Linked DNA regions of Homo sapiens. The protein of the gene in region 2 purifies or fractionates together with the protein of the main gene of each other region. This does not show direct contact. Each region holds a gene or a part of one and is shown on either strand. Other genes may lie near its edges.

The links.
Region 1: the proteins of CKM (region 2) and PALM2AKAP2 purify together in Homo sapiens (affinity purification with mass spectrometry; 3 studies listed by BioGRID and IntAct, with this or other methods). This does not show direct contact.

Annotation. Positions count from the first base shown.
Region 1 is NC_000009.12:110,168,181-110,173,282, forward strand, and holds the end of PALM2AKAP2 (PALM2-AKAP2 protein isoform 3 (PALM2-AKAP2)), read left to right. Parts: intron 1-218; coding exon 219-317; 3' UTR 318-4,332; downstream 4,333-5,102. UniProt on the Homo sapiens protein: Binds to regulatory subunit (RII) of protein kinase A. May be involved in establishing polarity in signaling systems or in integrating PKA-RII isoforms with downstream effectors to capture, amplify and focus diffuse, trans-cellular signals carried by cAMP.
Region 2 is NC_000019.10:45,305,837-45,313,086, forward strand, and holds the end of CKM (creatine kinase M-type), read right to left. Parts: intron 6,085-7,250; coding exon 5,913-6,084; intron 2,697-5,912; coding exon 2,573-2,696; intron 1,815-2,572; coding exon 1,625-1,814; intron 1,093-1,624; coding exon 914-1,092; 3' UTR 577-913; downstream 1-576. UniProt on the Homo sapiens protein: Reversibly catalyzes the transfer of phosphate between ATP and various phosphogens (e.g. creatine phosphate).

The DNA.
Region 1 (5,102 bases), on a different chromosome or scaffold from region 2:
TAGGGGTCAAGTAGCAGATGAATACTGGCTGTGAGATGAATGCATAACCAGAACCTCCCATTCCCCTTTTTCCAGCGTCTCTCCTATCTCCCAGCAGTGCTTTATCACTTTCTCCTCTCAAGTTGATAAAGAGAAAGGAAGAAAGAAACAGAGAAGTCGGTTTATGTTCATAATTAACATCCATGAACTCTGCATAATTTTTTCCCCTCTCTTTACAGGTCCTCGAGGCCACACGGGTTAATCGAAGAAAGAGCGCACTGGCTTTGCGCTGGGAAGCAGGGATCTATGCCAACCAGGAGGAAGAAGACAACGAATAAACTTCCTTCAACCCAGGAAGCGTCTTTGGTGCTTGGGAGACCAAGAAACCAAGAAATTAACAACTGAAAGCATTTTAATGGACTATTTATTAAAGTGCAAACAAACTCAGCAATCCTTATGTAGACCAGAAGCTGCAATATACAATGATGAAAATGAAACGAAAAGGAAGTCCCCCCATCAGACTCTGGACACCCAGGAATCAAAAGAGAAAGGACTTTTTTGGTGACTCAATCCCAGTGTCTGGTTTGGGGCCAATCTACAATGGATCCAAAAGGACAAAACATGTTACAAGCAAATCAACATAGTTGCTGCAGGCGGAACTGAGACCAGCCTCTCTGGGCGATGAAGGACAATGGTGGTAGGGCCACTTAGAGAGCAGTAGGGCCCAGGCTGGTGCAGCCTACATGGCACAGGATATTTCCCTGCACCAGTTTCCCACCTGTCACTTGCAGCATCAGAGGGTGTTGCATTAACTCCATTTTCTCCAGCAGCCATAAAATGAATGGCGTTTCTCTCCATATTTGCCCAGAAGAGGCAGTTATGATTCCACTTCTCCTACATTTAATTATTTTTAATTGAGAACAACTCATGATCACAATTCATAAAATCCATATTTTAAGACAATAGTTCTTCATGTCACAAACACAATCTATTCTACATGAGGAGGCTGAGAAAGGGGAAGAGAAAAACAAACCAAATGGATGATGTTAGCTTTAGGATCGTGTCTGCTTATAATATTCACTGATCTGCAGTTTATGAGAACACATTTTCACAGTTATGTTTCTTCATAGGAAAACTATATTTAGTGGGCAACAACTATTTTTATGATGGGATGGGGGAGTATATACACGTATAGAATCTGTACGCGTTGAACAACTTGGTTCAAGATGGTGGGGGCATTTTTAGAGCGGCAATAATTGAAAAAAAAGGCGAACTCTGCCTTGGAGAGGTAGATGATAAGAAATAAAAAGGTGTTTATAACTATTTTGTATTATAAAGTGGGCCTTAGAGATAGGAAGAAGAATGATGGATTCCTTTTGGATCAATCAGAAAGGAAACACGAAAGAAAAGTCAGGAAGGTAGAGAGAGAAAAAGGGAGGGAAGGAGAAAGAATGGGAATAAAATAAGGAGGTAAGAGATACTATTTTTGCTGAGCAACCAGTGTGTTTCAGGATGATACAAAGAAAAATATAGAATAGAAATAAGTGCAGGCTTGGAATCAGCTACAAATCCTAAAGATGGGGTGTGTGTGGATGTGTGTGTGTGTGTGTGTACACCATTGTGTGTTTGTAAAATGTGTATGTTCATGAGTAAGGGTGTGTGTGTGTGTGTATTAAAATTCCAGAGTGACCGTGGCACTTGGGTGTACAGGTAATTCCTCCAGAGCTGTTTGCTGGCTTCAGGAGTGGAGTGAGAATTTCTTTTTTATGAAAAGGGATATAAAGGCACCGAGCTGATGCAGTATTTGTAATATTAAGTTGACCTAACAAGGTATTTGCATGAGTCACAATTACAAAGTTTTGAGCGGTTTTGTAATTTGACATTTAGGAGAGTCTCCTATTTATTCTCATACTTTACATTCATGCTTAGTATACTATAGAGGATGCCAGCTTTAATCTTTCTGTCATTTAAAGCAATATGATAAGGGTATTCAATAATTGGGTGCCCTAAATTTCTGGATGAGAAAATTTTCAATTCTGGCCATGAGAAAGAAAAAAAAATAAACAGCCTTCTTTTTTTTTCCTTTGTTTTAAAACTGTGGTTTTTTAAAAAAGCAATAATTAACTCAGACCTCACTAAAAATCATTTTTGTTTTTATATTGTTATGTCATAAGCTCTATTATGTTATTCTAACAAGTAGCAATTTCACAAAATTTGTATGTAGATGTTAACGCACATTTCCTTTGCTTCTTTTATTAGACTAGTGTTGACTTTGGGGGGGGACATTTATTCACAAATGAGAAGTAGGCACAAAGTAAAAAATGGAACCATCTACTAACAAGGATCCTTTAAAACTGCCAAGGGAGCTCTAACTTGAAGCCACATCCTACAGATGGCAGCCCAAATAGCACATGGGCAATTGGCACCATCTTTATATGGTTGAGTCTCCTGAATATTTTGAATGAATTCTCAACAAAATGTGCTAGCCACTGGGGACGCAAAACAAGTAAGATCCCTGTTGCAAGAAATTCATTTTATAGTGAGGGAGGTTGGCATGGAGACTAAAATTCTCAGGAAAATGAGATCCGTGTTAGATTAGAAGTCCTGATGTGAAATGGGAGGACTCAGGAAGGAGGATCGTCTTTACCTGAGGATTTCTAGCCAGAGGTCCCAGATGCCTGGGCTGAGAACCCAGCGATAAGGGGGCGTTCCCAAAGCAGACACAGGGATAAGAACAGAGGAGGCAGCAGCATTGCACAGCCCCAGGCACAGTGGCAGTTAGGATGGCTGGAGAGTAGGATAGTTCTATGGGTTGCCCAAAAAATGTGATGCGCTTCATGTTTTCTCTGACTCATGGATCTGGTAGAGACCATAGACATGATATAGACTAACTTCCCCATTTTTCACAAGAGGAAACCATCCTTATGACTTACCTTAAAGTTTTTTGTTCTGTTTTGAAGGAAACCATGTGCTTCATGAAACCTACAGTTGACAAGAGAATGTACAGCTAAGAGAAAAGCTTAAGAGGCCACACTATTCGCGGAATGGCTTTAGAGGCAGATGAAGTGGTCTTTGACCACAGTTGATTGAACCAGAGCACTTATTGCTTAAAGAATAACAGAGTTCTAGAGCTGGGGGTTCTTGGGCCATGCTCCGTGTGTGGATAAGGAAAGAAATACTGTTTCTGGGACTCTCCCACAGTCACAAAGCTGTTTTCACTGTGGCCCCTACATCTCTTAACTTTTGCTATTACTCCTATGCTGCCTTCCGGATTACTGCTGTCTATCTTCTTGCTCCACTCACTGAAGATCCTATTATAATCCCATGAAAATGTAAATTACAGTTTACTTGGGAGAGCCAGATTTTCTCTGTGCTCTTGAGTTTTTTATTCATTCAAGAAACCTTGGGCCACCGCTTTGTACATAGCACCGTGCTAGGCTCTGGGATCCCAAATGGACCCTTTTAACTTTCTGAAGATGGGACCGTCCCCTGGAGGAAAGTCATTCCTGCCTAATCCATCGAGAGAAAGAGGCTTACGAAAAACTTTGCCTCTGATGCTCAGCCCCACCCCCAAATAGCACACAAGCTTGTTAACCCCACCTCTTACAAAATGTTTAGATTCTGTAGGTGTTAAAAGCCTTTCTGGAAGTATTGCATTCTGCCGTGTTTATAGGTGTTCACTTTCCTCCAGAGCTGATTAACTACTGACATGACTTGGCTTTCTCATCCAGAAATTATGGAAACAGGGTCTGTCAGTGGCAGGAGGCCGTGCTGTGTTTTACTTGGATGACACAATGCAGTTTACTTGCCTCTTCATACCCATGCATGCTGCTCACCCTAGACAATGACATATAAGCCGTATATAGATCAATGTCCACATATATATACACACACACATATATATATATAAAGTGTAACAAGGAACACTAAAACAGTGTTGATTCTTGTCTCTGAAGACAAATAATTAAACCTTTTTTTTCCCAACTAAAGAATGGATTTAATTAAACTATGTATTGAAAAAAAAGTAGCCTAAGTGTTAGAGATGGTGAATATATTCCATTTTAGTTAAAGAACAAATTTCCTGAATTTTAAGCATTCAGTGAGCTGCCAATTTTGATTTTGTGTTGCTCTTTACCCAAATTATTTTTTCTTTGTTTTTCTTTTTTTGGGGGAGGAGGGGAAAAAAGCAGCAATACTGTGTTTGGAAATTATACTCTGTATCTGGTTTTCCTGTGTATGTTAACCACTTAAATGTTATTATCCTGCTTTGGTTTTAGAGTGATTGTGAGGCATTCAATGCAAGTATACAGTTATTTTCTCATTAAAATCCAATGTGTGTTGAGTTTTTATAAATAATGGCTGCTTGTTTGACCGTGAGGGAGGTTGGAAGACTGGGCCAAACAGTGGCACGCCAGCGTCCTACTTGGCCGCTACTGTGTGACAGCTTCTGGTTCCTCATGTTTGCAACAAAGGAATCAATCCGAGCTGAGGGGGCACTGCTGCACCAGGCTGTTCCCACAGCCCCCTTTTCAATGCTGTCCCCAGCCACCCTGGCTAGATGCCAGAAGCTGCAAGTGCCTCTTAAGGACATAGACTCGAAGCCACAGCAAGAGCTGGACAAACAGCAGGACGAACGGTAAACTCCAGCCTTGCCTGTAGCTTTTGGCTCTAACCTTTAGAATACATTATGAGCACCGGCCGGGCGCGGTCGCTCACGCCTGTAATCCCAGCACTTTGGGAGGCCGAGACGGGCGGATCACGAGGTCAGGAGATCGAGACCATCTTGGCTAACACGGTGAAACCCCGTCTCTACTAAAAATACAAAAAATTAGCCGGGTGCGGTGGCGGGCTCCTGTAGTCCCAGCTGCTCGAGAGGCTGAGGCAGGAGAATGGCGTGAACCCGGGAGGCGGAGCTTGCAGTGAGCCGAGATCGCACCACTGCACTCCAGCCTGGGGGACAGAGCCAGACTCCGTCTCAAAAAAAAAAAAAAAAAAAAAAAAAACCACATTCTAAGCACCTGTATTTGGCTCTCCTCTGCAAGGAATAGCTGATGGCTACATGTTGACATGAAGGACTCCTTTTGTTGTATTCAACATAAAGCCCCTTTCCCCAAACTCTTACT
Region 2 (7,250 bases):
AGGAGTAATGGGGAAAGAACTGGAAAGGTGAGCCTCCAGCAAATGGTATGCATTTCAGTGTGGCCTTGAGTTGCAAAATAACAGAAAAGCTTTCTAGGAGAAATGGGGAGCCATGGCAGGTTCTTGAGAAAGTAAGGGACTGGCAGCAGCTACAGAGGGATGAAGTCAGACGGGACAGAAGGAGGCCACTGAGAAGCAGAATATAGGTAGATGTGACGAGCTGCATGGGAGGTCTCAAAACTGGAGACCGTTGGGCTAAATTCAAGTTTCAGACATTTCGTTTGGCTGCATTCCTCCCCAGCGTGGACCTCGTGTTTGAGATCTGAGCATGACTAATTCAAAGCCATAGTTGGAAAGGGCCCATGCTTTGGGTGAGTGACACTGGGCTCAGTGTCTCTCTGGGTCTCAGATTCCCCATAGAGCCTTCTAATTTTTGGACTAGATTCTGTGACCTAACTTTGCCTCATTTTAGACCCGGGATAAGACATGTTTAGTACATGCCTAGACAGGACAAACCACTCTGAGACCACACAGTGGCCAATTGCACGTCCTCCCTCAATAACTATCGCACAAAGCTAAGGCCACCAATGCTTTTATTTATCGCTTTGCGTGGAGACAAAGCACAAGCTCCGAGTGTGCTGGGAGCTCTCCATTAACTAGAGCTCCTGGTTGGGGTGGAGCTCTGGGAAAAGAAGAGGACCCTGCCAGGGAGATATTTCATTGGCCAGAATCCAGAGGATGGAGCCCATTGGTTGGAACTCTGGTTGAAACTGGAACTCTGAGAAGGGTGGAGAGAGCCCCCAGGTGGGACTCTGGGACAGGGGGCGGGGCGAGGAGTGAGGGAGCAGGACTCTGGTGGGCCAGGCCCTCCCACTGGCTGGGTTCCAGCAGTCGGTGGCAGGTGGGCAGGCGCCTACTTCTGGGCGGGGATCATGTCGTCAATGGACTGGCCTTTCTCCAACTTCTTCTCCATTTCCACCATGAGCTTCACACCATCCACCACCAGCTGCACCTGTTCTACTTCGGACGAGCCCAGCCGATCAGCGTTGGACACGTCAAATACTGAGCCCACGGCAGCTGTGTCCACGCCACCTGTGGGAGCAAGGGACAGGGGCGTGAAGAGGCAGCGAAGGTGCAGAGGGGCTGGGACGTGGCCCCCGTGCCAAATGCAACAGCCGCATGTAGTGAGTGCCTACTGTGTAACAGGTTACCTGCACACAGGTAATGCCTGTTCATTCGTGAGCTCACGAGTCTCTGACTTCAGATGGGGTACCACGCCACTCAGTTATCAAACATAGTATAGTGGGTAAGAGAGTGGGTTCTGGAGCCAGGCGGCCTAGGGTCGAATCCTGACCACTCCTCGCTTTATAAATGGGGAAACTGAGGCCCCGAGGGAGGTCCAAGGGCATGTGCAATGCATATTATATAATCATGAAAATCCCACATTGACTCCTATCACATAGGCATATTGACACCCATTTTACAGAGGAAGAAATGCAAGCTCACAGAGGGTCAGCCCTTGCCGGATCCCCAGAACTCGCAGGGATGTCGCACCTCTCCTTGCATCCCTGCAAAGGGCCCTCGCTCCCCCTCCGTCGTGGTGCAAAGGATGTGGGAGCCGTACCTGTACCCCTCTTCTGCAGACGCAGGCGGGTGAGGATCTCCTCGAACTTGGGGTGCTTGCTCAGGTGCGCCAGCTTCACATGCACGCCTCCACGCAGCCCAGTGCCCAGGTTGGATGGGCAGGTGAGCACGTAGCCCAGGTGCTGGTTCCACATGAAGGGGTGGCCAGCTTTCTTAAAGATCTCCTCAATCTGAGGTTCAGAGAGAGGACCAGGGGTCAGCGCCGGCAGGCACCCCCAAATGCACCCGCAACATGGACAGGGTCCGGAGGGACAGGGCGTGGGAACGTGGTGGAGGTGGGATTCTGAGGGGAACAGGGAGGTAGGAGATTCCGAGGGTGCTGGCTAGACAATGGGGACCAAGGCAGGATTTTGAGGGGCGGGGACTAAGAACGCTTTGAAGGCGGGTTTTTTTTTTTTTTTTTTCCAGAGTCTCTCTGTGTCACCCAGGCTGGAGTGCAATGGCGTGATCTCGTCTCACTGCAACCTCTGCCTCCCAGGTTCAAGCGATTCTCCTGCCTCAGCCTCCCGAGTAGCTGGGACTACAGGCGCGCGCCACTACGCCTGGATAATTTATTTATTTATTAATTTTTTAGTATAGAGACGGGGTTTCACCATGTTGGCCAGGCTGGTCTTGAACTCCTGACCCTCCTCAGCCTCCCAAAGTGCTGGGATTACAGGCGTGAGCCACCGCTCCCGGCCTGAAGGCGGATCCTTACGGGCGGGGCTTGGGCATAGGGTGGAGCTGGGTCCAGGGGCGGGGCCCTGAAAAGCGGGTGGGGCTAGTTTTGGGGGGCGGGGTTTGGCATGGGGTGGAGCCAGGTCCGGGGGGCAGGGCCCTGGAAAATGGGTGGGGCAGGGCTTAGTATAGGGGAAGGGGCGGGGCCTCGGAAAGCAGGTGGGGCGTTCAAGGTGGAGTCAGAAGTCAGCAGCTAAGGGCAGACACCCACCTTCTGCAGCCCTACGCAGAAGCGGCGGAAAACCTCCTTCATGTTGCCCCCCTTCTCCATGGAGATGACCCGGAGGTGATCCTCCTCGTTCACCCACACCAGGAAGCTCTTGTTGTCATTGTGCCTAGAGTAAGGTGCCGCAGCAAGAGGCCAAGGTGTCAGCCCCGTGGGAACCCCATTCCCAGCCCTCCCCCAAAACATCTGCCCACCGATGGGGGAAGAGGGCCTGAGGGGTGGGAGGTGGGTGGCATCTGCCTCCTCAAAACGCAGAAGCTTAAACCTGTAGACTCTAATGTCACAGGATCTGCAAAACGCTGAATCCTGGGATCAAGGACTTTTAGGGACTTAAGTCTTTGAACAGTATTATTATAGATCCTTGGGATCTCAGGATGTTTGACAAACAGAAGCTTGGGATCAGAACTGATAACACTTGGTAATCCTACATCTGGTTTCAGGACCAGAAAATCTTCCCATCGTAGTGTGTTAGCTCCCAATCCTAGCATCTCAGAAGCAGGATCTTAGAACATAAAATATTAAGGCTGGGTGCGGTGGCTCACGCCTGTAATCCCAGCACTTTGGGAGGCCGAGGCGGGCGGATCACAAGGTCAGGAGATCGACACCATCCTGGCTAACACGTCGAAACCCTGTCTCTACTAAAAAATACAAAAAAAAATCTGGGCATGGTGGCGGGCATCTGTAGTCCCAGCTACTCAGGAGGCTGAGGCAAGAGAATGGCGAGAACCCGGGAGGTGGAGCTTGCAGTGAGTCGAGATCGCGCCACTGCACTCCAGCCTGGGCAACAGAGCGAGACTCCATCTCAAAAAAAAAAAAAAAAAAGAACATAAAATATTAAGATCCGGAAATGGCCGGGTGTGGTGGCTCATGCCTGTAATCCCAGCACTTTGGGAGGCCAAGGCCGGAGGATTGCTTGAGCCCAGGAGTTCAAGACTACCCTGGGCAACATGGCAAGACCCACATATCTACAAAATTTAAAAAATTAGCAGGCATGGTGGGACACATGCCTGTAGTCCAAGCCACTGGGGAGGCTGAGGCGGGAGGATCACTTGACCTTGGAAGGTCCAGGCTGCAGCGAGCTATGATCCCACCACTGCACTCCAGCCTGGGCAACAGAGCAAGACCCTGTCTCAAAAAAAAAAAAAAAAAAACCTGAGGGCAGGCATGGTGGCTCACGCTTGTAATCCCAGCACTTTGGGAGGCTGAGGTGGGCGGATCACTTAAGGTGAAGAGTTCGAGACCAGCCTGAGCAACATGGCAGAACGCTGTCTCTACCAAAAATACGAAAACTAGCTGGGCACAGTGGCACATGCCTGTCGTCCTAGCTACTAAGGAGGCGGAGGGTGAGAGGATCGTTTGAACCCGGGAGATGGAGGTTTCAGTGAGTCGAGATCAACCCACTGCACTCCAGCCTGGGCCTCAGAGTGAGAGTCCATCTCAAAATAAATAAATAAATAAATGAGTGGAATCTTAAAACCTAAAAATATTTAAAATCTTGAAATCTTAGAATCATCCCATCTGTATATCTTAGCACCCAGGCTCCCTTCATCGATTGAAACCTAGGTTCTCTAAATCTTTGACTATCTGAATCAGGGATTCAAAGAGTCAAAACAAGTCTAGCAATAATACTTTATAATAAAGATAAGACGAATAACCAAGATGTACTGAACACTTAGTGTATACCAGGCACTGCTTTTTTTTTTTTTTTTTTTTTTGAGACAGAGTCTTGGTCTGTCGCCCAGGCTGGAGTGCAGTGATGCGATCTTGGCTCACTTCAAGCTCCGCCTCCCGGGTTCACGCCATTCTCCTGCCTCAGCCTCACGAGTAAGTAGGACTACAGGCGCCTGCCACCAAGCCCAGCTAATTTTTTGTATTTTTAGTAGAGACGGGGTTTCACCATGTTAGCCAGGATGGTCTCGATCTCCTGACCTCGTGATCCGCCCGCCTTGGCCTCCCAAAGTGCTGGGATTACAGGCGTGAGCCACCGCGCCTGGCCCAGGCACTGCTTTTAATACTTTACATAAATTAACTCATTTAATCCTCACAAGAACACCAGAAACTACAAATTATTGTGATCCCTATCCTATAGCTAGGAAACTGGGGTAGAGAAAAATAAAATAAGTTGCCCAAGGTCACAAAGCTAGTAAAGTTAGTAAATGGTAGAGCTGGGATTTGAACCTAGGGAGTACGGTTCAAGTCTGAGTTCTTATTTTTGAGACAGGTAGCTGGAGTGCAGTACCTCGGTCATGATTCACAGTAACCTCAATCCTCTGGGCCCAGCTGATCCTCAGCCTCTCGAGTAGCTGGGACCACAGGTATACGCCATCACGCCTGGCTTTTTTTTTTTTTTTTTTTTTTTTTTTTTTTTGAGACGGAGTCTCCTGTCGCCCAGGCTGGAGTGCAGTGGCACGATCTCAGCTCACTGCAAGCTCCGCCTCTTGGGTTCAGGCCATTCTCCTGCCTCAGCCTCCCAAGTAGCTGGGACTACAGGCGCCTGCCACGACGCCGGGCTAATTTTTTTTTTTTTTTTGTAGTTTTAGTAGAGACGGGGTTTCACCGTGTTAGCCAGGATGGTGTCAATCTCCTGACCTCGTGATCCGCCCACCTTGGCCTCCCAAAGTGCTGGGATTACAGGCGTGAGCCACCGCGCCTGGCTTTTTTTTTTTTTAATTTTTGTAGCGACGTGGTCTCCCTATGTTGCCCAGGCTGGTCTAGAACTCCTGGGCACAAGCGACCCTCCTGCTGCAGCCTCCCAAAGTGCTGGGATTACAGGTGTGAGCCACTGTGCCCGGCCAAGTCTAAGTTCTTTCTTTTTTGTTTGTTTTTTTTTGAGACAGTCTGGCTCTGTCGCCCAGGCTGGAGTGCAGTGGCACGATCTCGGCTCACTGCAACCTCCGCCACCTGGGTTCAAGCGATTCTCCTGCATCATCTTCCCAAGTAGCTGGGACTACAGGCGCCTGCCACTACGCCCAGCTAAATTTTTGTCATTTTTAGTAGACACCGTGTTGGCCAGGCTGGTCTCAAACTCCTGACCTCAAGTGATCCCCCCGCCTTGGCCTCGCAAAGTGCAGGGATTACAGGCATGAGCCACCGTGCCCCGCCAAGTCTTAAGTTTTTAACTACCACTTCTCCGGTCCAGATATCCCAAAATCTGACACACAGACCACAGGATGGGCAGGGGCGGAGGGCAAGATCATTTTCCGTGGCATTTAGAAGATCATAATTACGTATATGGCCTTGGTTTTGGTGGAGGAGTGAGGAGGGCCGTTGCAGGACTGGAGGAGGCTGGGGGAAGAGGAAGCCAGGGGGCGGGGAGGGGCCTCACCAGATGCCACGGGCGTCGGGCCAGTCGCGGGCCATGCCTGAGGCCAGCAGCAGCGGGGACACGGGCTTGTCGAACAGGAAGTGGTCATCGATGAGCTGCTGCTGCTCCTTCTCCGTCATGCTCTTCAGAGGGTAGTACTTCCCTTTGAACTCGCCCGTCAGGCTGTTGAGAGCTATGGGGACACACGAGGGAGTGGTCAGCAGCCTGTCCCACCTCAACCAGGGTGTGGAGGCCCAGGGTTTCCCCTGCTGCTGCTCCTAACGGGCCTGGGCCTTGGCCCCCTGGATGTCCTAAAGGCACCTGAACCCTGTGTCTAAACCCACACTTGTGACGGCTCCCCAAAATCTGTTCCTGCCATCTGTCCAGGCCCCCAGGAATGGCCACCCCATGTGCTCAATCTGGAAAACAGACCCACCTCTTCCCCTGAGGGACCCTCACATCCAATCCACCTGCAGGCCACAGTGTGCTGGTGCCTGCTCCTAATGGCTGGCAACACAGATGGCTGAAGTCTCAGGACTTTGAGAGGCCATTAGTAAAAATTATTATAAAGTAGAATGGTAGCCAGGTGCACTGGCACGAGCCTGTAGTCCAGATACTGGGGAGGCTGAGGCAGGAGGATCACTTAAGCCCAGGAGTTCGAGTCCAGTCTGGGTAACATAGCAAGACCCCCATCTTTTTTTTTTTTTTTTATGAGACGGAGTTTTGCTCTTGTTGCCCAGGCTGGAGCGCAATGGCGCGATCTTGGCTCACTGCCACCTCCGTCTCCCGGGTTCAAGCGAATCTCTTGCCTCAGCCTCTCAAGTACCTGGGATTACAGGCATGCGCCACCATGCCCGGCTAATTTTGTATTTTTAGTAGAGACGGGGTTTCTCCACTTGGGCGCCTGGCCCAAGACCCCAATCTTTAAAAAAAAAAAAATTGTAGGCTGGGCGCAGTGGCTCATGCCTATAATCCCAGCACTTTGGGAGGCCAAGGCAGGCAGATCACTTGAGGTCAGGATTTTGAGACCAGCCTGGCCAACATGGTGAAACCCCGTCTCCACTAAAAATACAAAAATTAGTCGGCCATGGTGGCACACGCCTGTAATCCCAGCTACTCAAGAGGCTGAGGCACGAGAAACACTTGAACCCAAGAGGTGGAGGTTGCAGTGAGCTGAGATTTTGCCACTGCACTCCAGCCTGGGTGACAGAGTGAGATTCTGTCTAAAAAAAAAAAAAAGAAAAAAAATTGTGTGTTTATTTGTATATTCATGTATAAAATATGTGTATAATGAATTTGTGTTTGTGCATATGTACAATAAATCTATAATATTTATATATCTTATACATATTCATATAA